3 linked regions of the Homo sapiens genome follow. The protein of the gene in region 2 purifies or fractionates together with the protein of the main gene of each other region. This does not show direct contact. Each region holds a gene or a part of one and is shown on either strand. Other genes may lie near its edges. The genes, in order: PVALB, ASCC3 and CLEC3A.

Region 1 (3,655 bases), on a different chromosome or scaffold from region 2:
TCCAGGCCCACCTGTGCAGCCTCCATTGAGCTCATAGGCAAGACATAAAATAGACAATGAGCACAGACCACCCTGAGGCACTGGGGCCCCACACTTCATGCTTTTGAGGTGGGAAGATGCAGATGCCCCCTTCCTCACTCCCAACCCCCTAACGCAGGAAGGGTGGGTGCAATGATGCCCAATAGGCAGCGAGATGGGAAGCAGAGCCTTTTTGGGGCCCAGGACGTTCTGTTTCAGATACTCTGCTTTGCTGTCACTCTCTCTAAAGGCCAGAAGGCCCGAGCCCCACCTATAGCTGGAAGATGCCTTCAACTCCTGGCGGGATCTGGGGCATGTCCCAGAGCCCCTCTGACCATAAAGTGCCTTGTCTTTAAAACCATGGGGCATGCCGGGCGCAGTGGCTCATGCCTGTAATCCCAGCACTTTGGGAGTCCAAGGCGGGCAGATCACAAGGTCAGGAGTTCGAGACCAGCCTGGCCAACATGGTGAAACCCCACCTCTACTAAAAATACAAAAATTAGCCAGGCGTGGTGGCACACACCTGTAATCCCAGCTACTCAAGAGGCTGAGGCAGGAGAATCACTTGAACCCAGGAGGCGGAGGTTGCAGTGAGCCAAGATCACACCACTGCACTCCAGCCTGGACAGCAGAGCTAGACTCCATCTCAAAAACAAAACAAAACAAAACGAAAAACCAAAAAAAAAAAAAAAAAACATGGGACATGGGGCAGATCACTAGCCAATTACTGGGGTGCGTTCCAGCCCCGGGATTTCACAGATGTCTCAGTGGATAAACCTCTACACAGAAGACCACTTCACTATTTTGGCTCAGCTGCGTGACCTTGAGTGATGATGGCAATAGCATCTAAGTTCATAGAGCGCTCAATATGTGCCAGGCACCGTGCTTAGCATTTCACTCATTTAATCTTCCTAGCTATCTCTGAAGTGTATACTATTATGATTCCCATTTTATAGATGAGCACACTGAGGCTCAGAGAGGCTAAGGGCTTGCATAAACCCTTTAGGCTAGGAAGAGAAAAGATCAAAGTCTGAAAGTCGGGTCTTTTGAGCTCCGAAGCACGTGACCTGTGCTGCCTGCTTCATTCATTCATTCATTCATTCATAGTTTAATTTACTATAAGATGATTATATTTATTGACTTATTGCCTATTTCTTTCTCCTCCACTAAGATGTCAGGTCCACTGAGCAGGAACTTTGTTTTTTTCAGTTCTAATCCCAGCACCTAGAATAGGGCCTGGCCCATAGTGGGAGAAAAAGAAAAGTGTATTTGGTTGAATGAATGAATGAATGAATGAACAAGTACCCAGCTCTGGGCAGCACTGTGCAGTGATGAGGATCATAACTGCTGTATGTAGTGGGAGATGATCTGCAAGCCAAGGTTGGGGATCTGTGGAGACTTGTCTGTAGCAGGTGCCAGGGAGCCCAAACCAGGGACTGCCTCTCTTCCCTGCTCTGTTTGTCCTTCTGAAGGTGAGTGATACTTATCAGTTTCTTGAAGATCCTGTATTGAAGGGAGGGGGTAGGAAGACAAAGTTCTAATAATAACCCTTTGCATTCCCGTCTCTGGGGCAACTACTTCCAGGAAGCTCAAAGGCTTTTATAGATGTGGTTGATTCATTCTCAAAGGCCACCCTAAAAGGCTGGTGCAGAGCTGACATGGGGAGGGCTTAAGGCTGAAAAGGAAAGAGAAGCTAGAAAAAGAGGTGAAGGGTGCCAAAAAAAAATCTTTGTTAAAGCACCTGCAGTTGCAAAGCCCAGGCATAAAAAGCAGACAAAGCAGACTATGTGGCAGGTGGCTTTTCAAACACTTCACCTTCACAACAGGTCTCCAGCTGGGAGCGGGTGTCAGCATCACCTGGAGGGCCTATGGCAACACAGATGGCTGTGCCAGACCCCAGGAGTTTCTGATTCCTTAGGTGGAGCCCACACTTTTGCATTTCTTACAAGTTAGCAGATGGTGCTAATGATCTGGCGAACCACACTTAGAAGACCACTGCCTTACAATAATCCTAGGAAGTAGATGCCGTCACTATCCCCATTTTGCAAGTGGAGAAACTGAGGCATCGTGAGAAGTGACATGCCCAGGGTCTCTCTGTAGCAGAGCTAGAACTGAGGCTCGGTGGTCCAGCCAGGACCCTCTGCCATCCTGCCTCACACGAGCATGTGTCCCCAGCCTGGGCCTTCCAAACTCAATGCCTGCCCCCGCAGAGTGTGTTGACCAACAGGAATCGAGGTTAGCATTCATCCCCACTTCCTGTGTGCCAAGTACAGCACACAGGCCTTACATCTTTTAACTCATTCAAACCTCCCAACAGCTCTACAAGATATTTTTGTTACTGATACATACAAGGAATCTGAGGCCCCGGGAAGCAGAGCGACTTGCTGTGAAGCCTCAGGGCCCTCTTCAAACCTTGACTCCTAATATCTTGCTGCAGAGAAGATCCGCATGCCCCGTGTGCACACGTGCCTGCACGCAGTCCTAGTTACATTCTTCCTGAAACCCATTCCCGGCGATGGATCCACTGCCCTCTGCTTTAAGTGTGTCTCAACTCAAGAGTTTGGGGTTTGCATTTTGCTTCTGTTGCTGAAACATGTAGTCATCATTATTGCCTAACCTTGCAACCCCCCCACCCCTTGCCACTCACTCGCATGCCTGAAGGAATTTGCCTTTTCTGCTTCCCTCTGGCAAAATCTGTTCCCTTTTATCCTTAAGTAGCCTATTTACCGTGAGAGGCGTGAGAGGCGGAGTGGTAGCGTAAGGCCTTGGGCTGTGGTGGAGCACCTGAGTCAGGCAGAAATTAGAAAGCCAAATGCTGGGGATCAGCCGTGGGAATGGCTGTATCTTTTCCTCTCTCAGGACATCCATTCCCACACCTGGAAAGTGGGGAGAAAAATACACACCTTACAGGGCTGTTGCTCGAATGAAGAGAATGTTCTAGAAATGATTCCTTTCCTCTTATTTTATGGGAATGTTTTGCTCGTAAGCCACCCAAAACCTTTTAAAAGTGGTGGAATCTCAATCCTCAACAGAAAGGAAATTGAGTCTAAAGCAGGAGAAAAGTGAGAGAGATAGAAGGAGAATTTGCCGTTCTCCCTGTAATTCTAGCCCTCCGGCCTCTATGGGGATTTGATTTCTAAGTAGGACAGGATGCTCAGATCAAGGCTAGCCCAGGGTTTTGAGGGCAGAGCCCTAAGGTGCACGATGCTTTGTCCCATCTCATTGCACCCTGGTACCAGCTCAATGAGGTTTAGGGGACACTGTGATGCCCACTGAGAGACTTGAAAACTGAGGCCCCGTAGACAGTAAGTGCCAAAGTCACATAGAAGTCCTTGGCCCAACGGGACCCGGGTCTCCTGACTCCACCACTCCCTCCCCTAAGCTGAGCTGAGACGTTTTAGTTATAAATGGCTTCTGTGCTTAGCAATCTGCTCTTTTTATTCCCGTGTGGACTTTCCCTAGCTCTGGCCTTATGCTGCACTAGAAAAGATTTAGCAAGGGGAGAGGAAGCAGCCTTCCTTACATAACTGGCCTCTTGTGAAAGGGAGCAGCTGCTTGGTGGAAAAAGACATTCCCCTCCATGCATCCCTCTCCTTCTGCCTCTGGGGGTTGCAGCTTGAGTCAGAACCAGGACCAT
Region 2 (3,655 bases):
CTTCTTACCTATTTCATCTTTCCTCATGTCTTTCAGCTTATCCACAGTAAGCTTTTTTTCTTCTAATCTTGTTAGGATGTGTGGTGGTAGGATTGAAAATTGTCTCAAAGGGCTAGCCCAACCCCAAAGCCTCTTGTCAATGACTTTACTAAGATTCAGGAGCCTGTAGGTCATGGTAGGCCAACGTTTCCTCAGAGCAATTTCAAAAAGAGCACGGACAATTCTAGCTGCATTCTAAAAAATTATAGGAGGAGATTGGTGGTTATACCCAATGTGCTTTTAAATTTGTCAATAAATCTATTATTCAAACTCAGTCTGAAAAGAAGTGCAAGTCAAGCTGCATCCTTGAATTGTGGGGCAATATCTTTTCTCATATAATCCTAATTATCTTATTATTTCTACATAAGAATAATCCTATCCTTTATATGTGGATGCTACTTGCTTACTCTCAGAGGGGAAGCCTTATTTCCAAGTTCTTAGAAAGCTCTACCTTCTAAACAGGAATGAAGTAGGAAGAGACAAAAGGCATGCAAAATATTTAGGAGGCTGTTAAGGCATCTGACTATAAGAGACAAGGACGCCTCTTGGTGAATAGTGGAATGATTAAATTTACAAGGCTATTTAGAGGATTAAGGAAGACTGGGATCCTGATAGGGAAAAAAAATAATGAGAGAAGGGTGACAAATGAAATACTGATTAGTGTAGCTACTCATATGAAAGGGCCATACAAATGGCTTCCTATAAACCAAACAATGTGTTAACTTGCTTTACATATATTGCCTCATTTAACTTTTACAAAAATTGCATTTAATTGATATTAATATTATGATTTTATAGATGAATATACTAGGGCTTAAAGAGGTAAAAAATTTGACCAAGGTCACACTGCTAGTTGGTGTCAGAGCATCTACTCAAAGCCAGGACTAAAGGACTCCAAATATAACTGAGATTCTAGACTCAGTGGTCTGAGGATAACTTTATTAATAGACATATAGAAAGTTATAATGAATGTAGTCTTTTTCTTCACATTTCTACAGCTAGCTCCCATTTATTTTGCCTCCACTCCTCTATCATTAACTTTGCAGATTGTTTTATTAAAGATTGTTTTTTAAATGAACTTATACCTTCCAAAATCCAGTAACATCTGTATTTGAAAATAAAGAATGTTCAGTCTGGTTAAAATCCAAACAAGAGATACAAAACTGAAAAGATTTCAAATGGCAGACAAACAATCCAGCCTAAAATTATGAAGTCAAAAATGACAGATGAGTTAAAGGCTTTCATTTCACATTTTATATAAGATATGCGCTGTCTTTTGATAAATTTGACTATTTTGTTTCAGTATTAGAAATTAAAGTACAAAATGGTAGATAGAAGTATGAGGACAGTTCTGATATCCATTAAAAATGACTGAATGGGTCTTTATAAGGCCCAGAGAATAATAAATAAAATTTTGATTACTGTATCTACCAAATAGGTTTTCCTACCTCATTCCCACTTGTTCTTACAAAAAACTATCAGGCTAATTTTCCTGCCTTTGAAAGTATGTCATTTTAATATTTCAGGATCTACAGTTATCCCCTCAATGCTAAAAGAAGTAGGAGAAATTCCATATGACAAGATACAAACAGGACATGTTAATCTAGAATGATATAAATTGGTTCAAAATAATAAGTCTATAACATGTACAGTCTAGAAAAGTTAAGCATAGGCCTTTAAATAAAATCCTAGAATATTTGAGCTATAGGTTTACCTTAGGGGCTGAGGAGAGAAAGTTTAAAAAATATAGAAGAAAATATCATTTTACAGAGTTGAGAGAGTAGTTGTTCAATTACTGATAGCTTAAACTTAAAATGTAATAAAGTATAATTTATCTGATGCATTCAGGGATGCTAAATCCATAATGGCTGTTTAAGAAAAAACAGGGATGCTTTGAGATATCCTTAATCAGAAGTTGACTTCCTGGATACCAATCATGAAGAGAATTAAAGTTTTACATTGTAAGCAATTCTTATGTCAGTCTCTGATAATATCTTCATAATCTTGAAGCAAGCAGAAATGTTGCCAGATTATTCATCCAGAACCCAGTAAAACTTTACCTTTTATTTAAATGATTAACTATTTCAATATAAAATCATTAGAAAATATAAAATGACAATATTACATTACTTTACAGAAAAACAGATAAAACAAAGGAGATTAGAAAATTATTCCTATAGAAGCTATAGGGTTTAAAGAATATATAAATATTTTCACTACATCTATATTAACTTTATATAATTTATGAATTATATAACCTGGTATCTTGGTTACATTGATTAAATTACTACATGCATTCAAAATGTTTACCAATATGTCTTGGTTTGTGTTTGTAAATATTCCATGTTTAAAGGACTCCTGAGTACTCATGGCTATTAATAATGATATATTTAACACAAACATTCTTTTTCTATATTTAGTCTTTCTTTGAACAAAATTACAAATATAACAGCAGAATCATTTCCATATTTAAAATAAAATTAAGCTTTAATTTCTTCTTAATTTATAAAAGGAAGTACTCAATAAAATAAAATTAAAAAGCCTTGACAGGTAAATAATTTTTTTAAAAAAGTATGTCTAGAAGGGAAATCTTTCATTTGAAGGATAAATAGGGTAAAATATAACCTACTTTACTTCACATAAGGGCTTGAATATAAAAACACAAATATTTGAACAGTTTATACCATGGTATTTTTTAAAAGTTATAAATTAAATGAGCTGTAGTTTAGGGAATAATTTTCTTTCTGTCCTCAATGTTTAAGTTTCAACAGTAGAGAGGAGAGATTACTTTTGTAAAAACCAGAGACATCACACTGAACGTATGGTAGGAAATATGTTTACTACGCCTTGTTTAATGATTAAAAATATTATTATTTCTAATATTTGGTAAAAATCTAAAAAAGTTCCACAATCTTTTCTTTATGCTTGCAATATTCTTTAACTTTTCTCTTTATAAGTACTTTATATTCTTTTACTTTATAAGTAAAAGAAATGAAATTCATCATTTAAAGTAGAAAAAAATCAGGTATCATTTTAAAACTTTGTAAGAAACATCAACATCACCAAAAAAAGCCCTATCAGTCACCAAATCTCATCCCCAGTCCTGTTTTATGAGCATAGATTACATAAAATATTTACAAATTAGCAGAAACAGTTCTAAGTAAAATGGTGGTTTGGTAGCATGTCACAAAGCAATGCATTCATAGCACAGCATGAATTAACACCTTGGTCCTCTAAATATATTCAAGGAAGAGAAAACTGGAAGGGAATAAGATACTTACCTGTGCAACATATGCAGAATCTGATATAAGGGAGAAACTGTCCATTTCTCCTCGGCTGATATAAGTTTGAAGTAAGATGTTTATTTTCCCATAACTATTCTCTACACCTCCAGGAGTGGAGAGTTCACAAAAATTGCTTAATAAGGTATCTAACTCCTCTATTTCCTCTTCTCTGACCTAGAAGAATCAATGTATTTATTGGAATTTTGGGGCTGATTTATTTAAATTTTTCACATTGAAATTAAATACATTGCATGTTTTTAAAGAGTTTCCATTTACTATAATGCAGCATTTTTCTTTCATAGAGTTAAATAACAATGATTTTTCCATAGGTA
Region 3 (3,655 bases), on a different chromosome or scaffold from region 2:
TCTAGTACCTGACTGTGGGTAAAGGATGAACCAAACTCACCTTCTGCATAAGCATTTGACTGTCTTTTAACTTTCTAATTCTGTTCCCCCGGAAGCCTGATAAAGGGAGTATGTCACCCTTGTTACTAGGCAACATTGCTTGTGGTAAAAATGACCCCAGGTTGGTAACATGCATCTGGTCTGGGAGTTATAAATACTTGATGGAAAGCCGTAACTTCAGTCTTCCCTGAAGGCAGTAACTTGTAATGAGGCAGGTCTCTTGTGAGGAACCTCAACACCTTGCTTTTGAAATTGCTACAAAGGATATTAGCTCCTTGGGGGATGAGCCTTGTAAACCAGGGCTGTTCCCAAACCTGCCCACATGGCTCACTTCCTCACCCCTTGGAGAATAGCTCCTGGGCAGTAGCGCATGTGGCTGCATAACTGTGGGGAGGAACGCTGGCGCTGCCCTGTTGGCAAGCTGCGGTTCTAACCCATGTCCTTCCAGCATCTTAGGCTGGGTGTGGCCCGAGAGAGTCCTGGTGGCCTGATAGGCACTTAGCTATCATCCAATAAATGCTAATCATTTTAGTCATTTCATACTGGCTTCATTCTGTTTCACTACTCTTTAGAGAATAAGTATGGACTGACTTTTCAAATTTATTCCTGAACTACTTATTTTTATTTCTATACCACCCATATATAGGAGAATGGGATTGTAAATGAAGCTGATTTCCTAAAACAATCATCTCCCGGCATTGGGGCCCTCTTATTGGCCACATTATTGATTTGTCAATGTTTCTTTTAAAAAGACGTCCCCCAGAAATTGACCCAGAAATTTTCCTGTCTCCTTTGGGACAAGGCACTGAGAAGGTCTGCACCTTACCTGTCTGCAGGGCTTGAATTTCCTTCAAGGCATTGACTTCTGTCCAGAGCTTTTCAATTTGAGTCTTCAGATCTCCATCCTTGTCTGGGGAAAATTTTAGGGTGGGATGGGGTAGGTGGATGAAAAGCGTATGATTAAAATAAAATCAAGCTTTGGAATGTAGGACCCAAGGCAATAGTGGTTTTGGTGAACCTGAGCCCAGTGTATACAAAAAATAATGCGTGAAAATAACTTGGGGCTGGCGAAGTGGCTCACGCCTGTAATCCCAGCACTTGGGGAGGCCAAGGCGGGTGGACCACTTGAGGCCAGGAGTTCGAGACCAGCCTGGCCAACATAGCAAAACCCTGTCTCTACTAAAAGTATAAAAATTAGCTGGGCATGGTGTTGAATGCCTGTAATTCCAGCTATTTGGGAAGCTGAGGCATGAGAACTGCTTCAACTTGGGAGGCAGAGGTTGCAGTGAGCAAAGATCATTCCACTGCACTCCAGCCTTGGTGAGGGAGTGAAACTCTGTCTGAAAAAAAACCAAACAAACAAAAAAACAATGAATGAAGGAAAGAAGGAAGGAAAAAAAGAAAAAGAAAATAACTTGGACAGGAAGATTCTTAAGAGCTTCATGGCAATCATAATACTAGAAGGTCCTTCTGTGAGATGAGGCTCCTTCTGTCTCTCCAGTCACATCCTGTGACTCTAGGCTTGTTGACTTTCAGGGTCATCTGAGAATGAGCTCAATCTCATCTTCCCTGTGTGTTCCTTCTGCTAGGATCACTCTTGCTCCAGCGCTTTCCTGTATTCTTAGCAAGCTTAAATATCTCCTCTTCTGAGAAGGCTTTCCTGGTTATACTATAATTTAGTATCCCTTCTGCTAATCTGTCTTTGAAACTTATTTTTCTTCATTCTCTAGTCTCAGTTCACATTTTATTTTATTCCATATTTTATAGAGTATTCTGTATATTTTCTTTTCTCTATTTTACTTTATTTCATCTGTCTTATTATTCTTGGTTCTTCTGATGCTTAACATGATACTTGGTACATAATAGGTGTTCATAATATTGTCTAGTGAATACACACTTTATGGTATACAAAATTGTTTTCACTTGCTCTTCAAACATAGCTATGAAGGGAGAAAAATTGGATTCCCACTGAAGAATGAGGACAAGTCCAATGAGAGTGTCTCAAAAGATACATGGCAGAATTCATACTCTGACTGATTTGGGTCCCCAGGTCCCCTGTCCCCAGTGTTCCGACTCAACACATGCCTCAGGTATGGTGGCTACTAGCAGGGTTAAGTGCTAAAGGTTCATATAGAAATACGTCTATATTAGGTATTAGCAACTTAAGTCTTGTATGTTCCTGGATGAGGCTAAAGGATCTTTATAGCTGTCCTTGACCAATCTTGGCTATAAGTAAGTGGCAGAAAACAAGAAGCCTTGGATAAATTGAAATTTCAGGTGTAATAAGGATTCTCTTAGAGATTGGCAGCTTGTGAGGTCTTCAAAAGCAGGAATTATAAATCATAACAAAAATTATTAAAAGCTTCCACATACTGTTTGTCAGAGATCAATTCTTTCAGTAGTGCTTTGAGAGAGACACAATCATTGTCTCCATTCTGCAGAAGAAAGAGTCCCGGAAAGCTGAATTCACCTGCTGAAGGTCACCCAGCTAGTAAAGTGAAGAATTGGGATTTAAATTTGCCCAGCTCCAGGCCTGTTCTCATTTCATCCCTCTTACCTGCTTCTGCACAGTGATTGCCTCTACCTTCTTGGTCCCGAGCACATGGCCCCAGACAGAGAAGATACTTAAAGCTTGGTATGAACTGTTCCCAGCTGCTTCTTTGTGGGGATTCCATGGAGGAAGTCTATGTTCTGTACTGGATTTTTCAGGACAGTCTAAAATTCACATGTGCTAATTCACTGTCCCCTTAAACATGTGCTTCATAAGCCAGATGTTTCCTCATTTGGGTTAGGAAGCTGTCTTCTGGAATATCCAGGGGTGGCCCCTGCCTCTGTTTTACTTAATGCTACACATCAGTTCTCAAAGCATCCCATGGCTCAGCTCAGAAATACTATAACCTAAAGATTTTTACCTGTGTGACCATTTAATCCAGAAAAAATGTAAGGGTGCATTCAGAATGCAAATTCATCAGCTGGTGGGGGCCGGGCTTGCAAAGACTGCTGAACACTTTCTTCCAAGGTATAAGCTGTCACCTCTAAAAATGTCATCCCCCATCCCTCTCAGCTTCCTGCTCCATTCTCCTTAAATAAGTGGCCTCTACTGGGAGATTGTAAACATTGTAATTAACATGAAGACACATGAATTGATATTAGGCTCCTGGGAGATGGTTATGAAATTCATTGTCCAGGGACTTGGCTGTAGCTTCCATCCTTTGTAGCTGATATAGATGTCTTTTATGTACAACAAACAAAGGGAATATGTGGAACAACTACTGAGCTGGAAAAGTCATATTTTATTCATGAATGCAACACATAAATTGAGACCTATGAAGCAAGTACCAGAGAGATCTTGTGTTTGAAGCTAAATTCTTCGGTTGCTATTTTGAGTCCCCCAGAAGGCTCCCTTTCATTTTACTGTTGCTCTCCAGAGGTAGACACAGTGTAGAAACACAAAAGTCATTCCCAGAAGACATGGCCAGTAAAACCATTATATGATGTTGGACTGTCAAAATACATAGGAATGGGCACTCCCATACACAGAAGATGGGAAGATGGATTGGTGTTATCATTTGGAGGGACAATTAGAAAGTATAATTAACCTGCAATTTTACTTCTG

The links.
Region 1: the proteins of ASCC3 (region 2) and PVALB purify together in Homo sapiens (affinity purification with mass spectrometry; one large-scale study listed by BioGRID and IntAct). This does not show direct contact.
Region 3: the proteins of ASCC3 (region 2) and CLEC3A purify together in Homo sapiens (co-immunoprecipitation; one large-scale study listed by IntAct). This does not show direct contact.

What each region holds. Positions count from the first base shown.
Region 1 is NC_000022.11:36,806,914-36,810,568, reverse strand, and holds part of PVALB (parvalbumin alpha), read left to right. Parts: intron 1-3,655. UniProt on the Homo sapiens protein: In muscle, parvalbumin is thought to be involved in relaxation after contraction. It binds two calcium ions.
Region 2 is NC_000006.12:100,647,218-100,650,872, forward strand, and holds part of ASCC3 (activating signal cointegrator 1 complex subunit 3), read right to left. Parts: intron 3,498-3,655; coding exon 3,321-3,497; intron 235-3,320; coding exon 9-234; intron 1-8. UniProt on the Homo sapiens protein: ATPase involved both in DNA repair and rescue of stalled ribosomes. 3'-5' DNA helicase involved in repair of alkylated DNA: promotes DNA unwinding to generate single-stranded substrate needed for ALKBH3, enabling ALKBH3 to process alkylated N3-methylcytosine (3mC) within double-stranded regions.
Region 3 is NC_000016.10:78,025,401-78,029,055, reverse strand, and holds part of CLEC3A (C-type lectin domain family 3 member A precursor), read right to left. Parts: intron 950-3,655; coding exon 866-949; intron 1-865. UniProt on the Homo sapiens protein: Promotes cell adhesion to laminin-332 and fibronectin.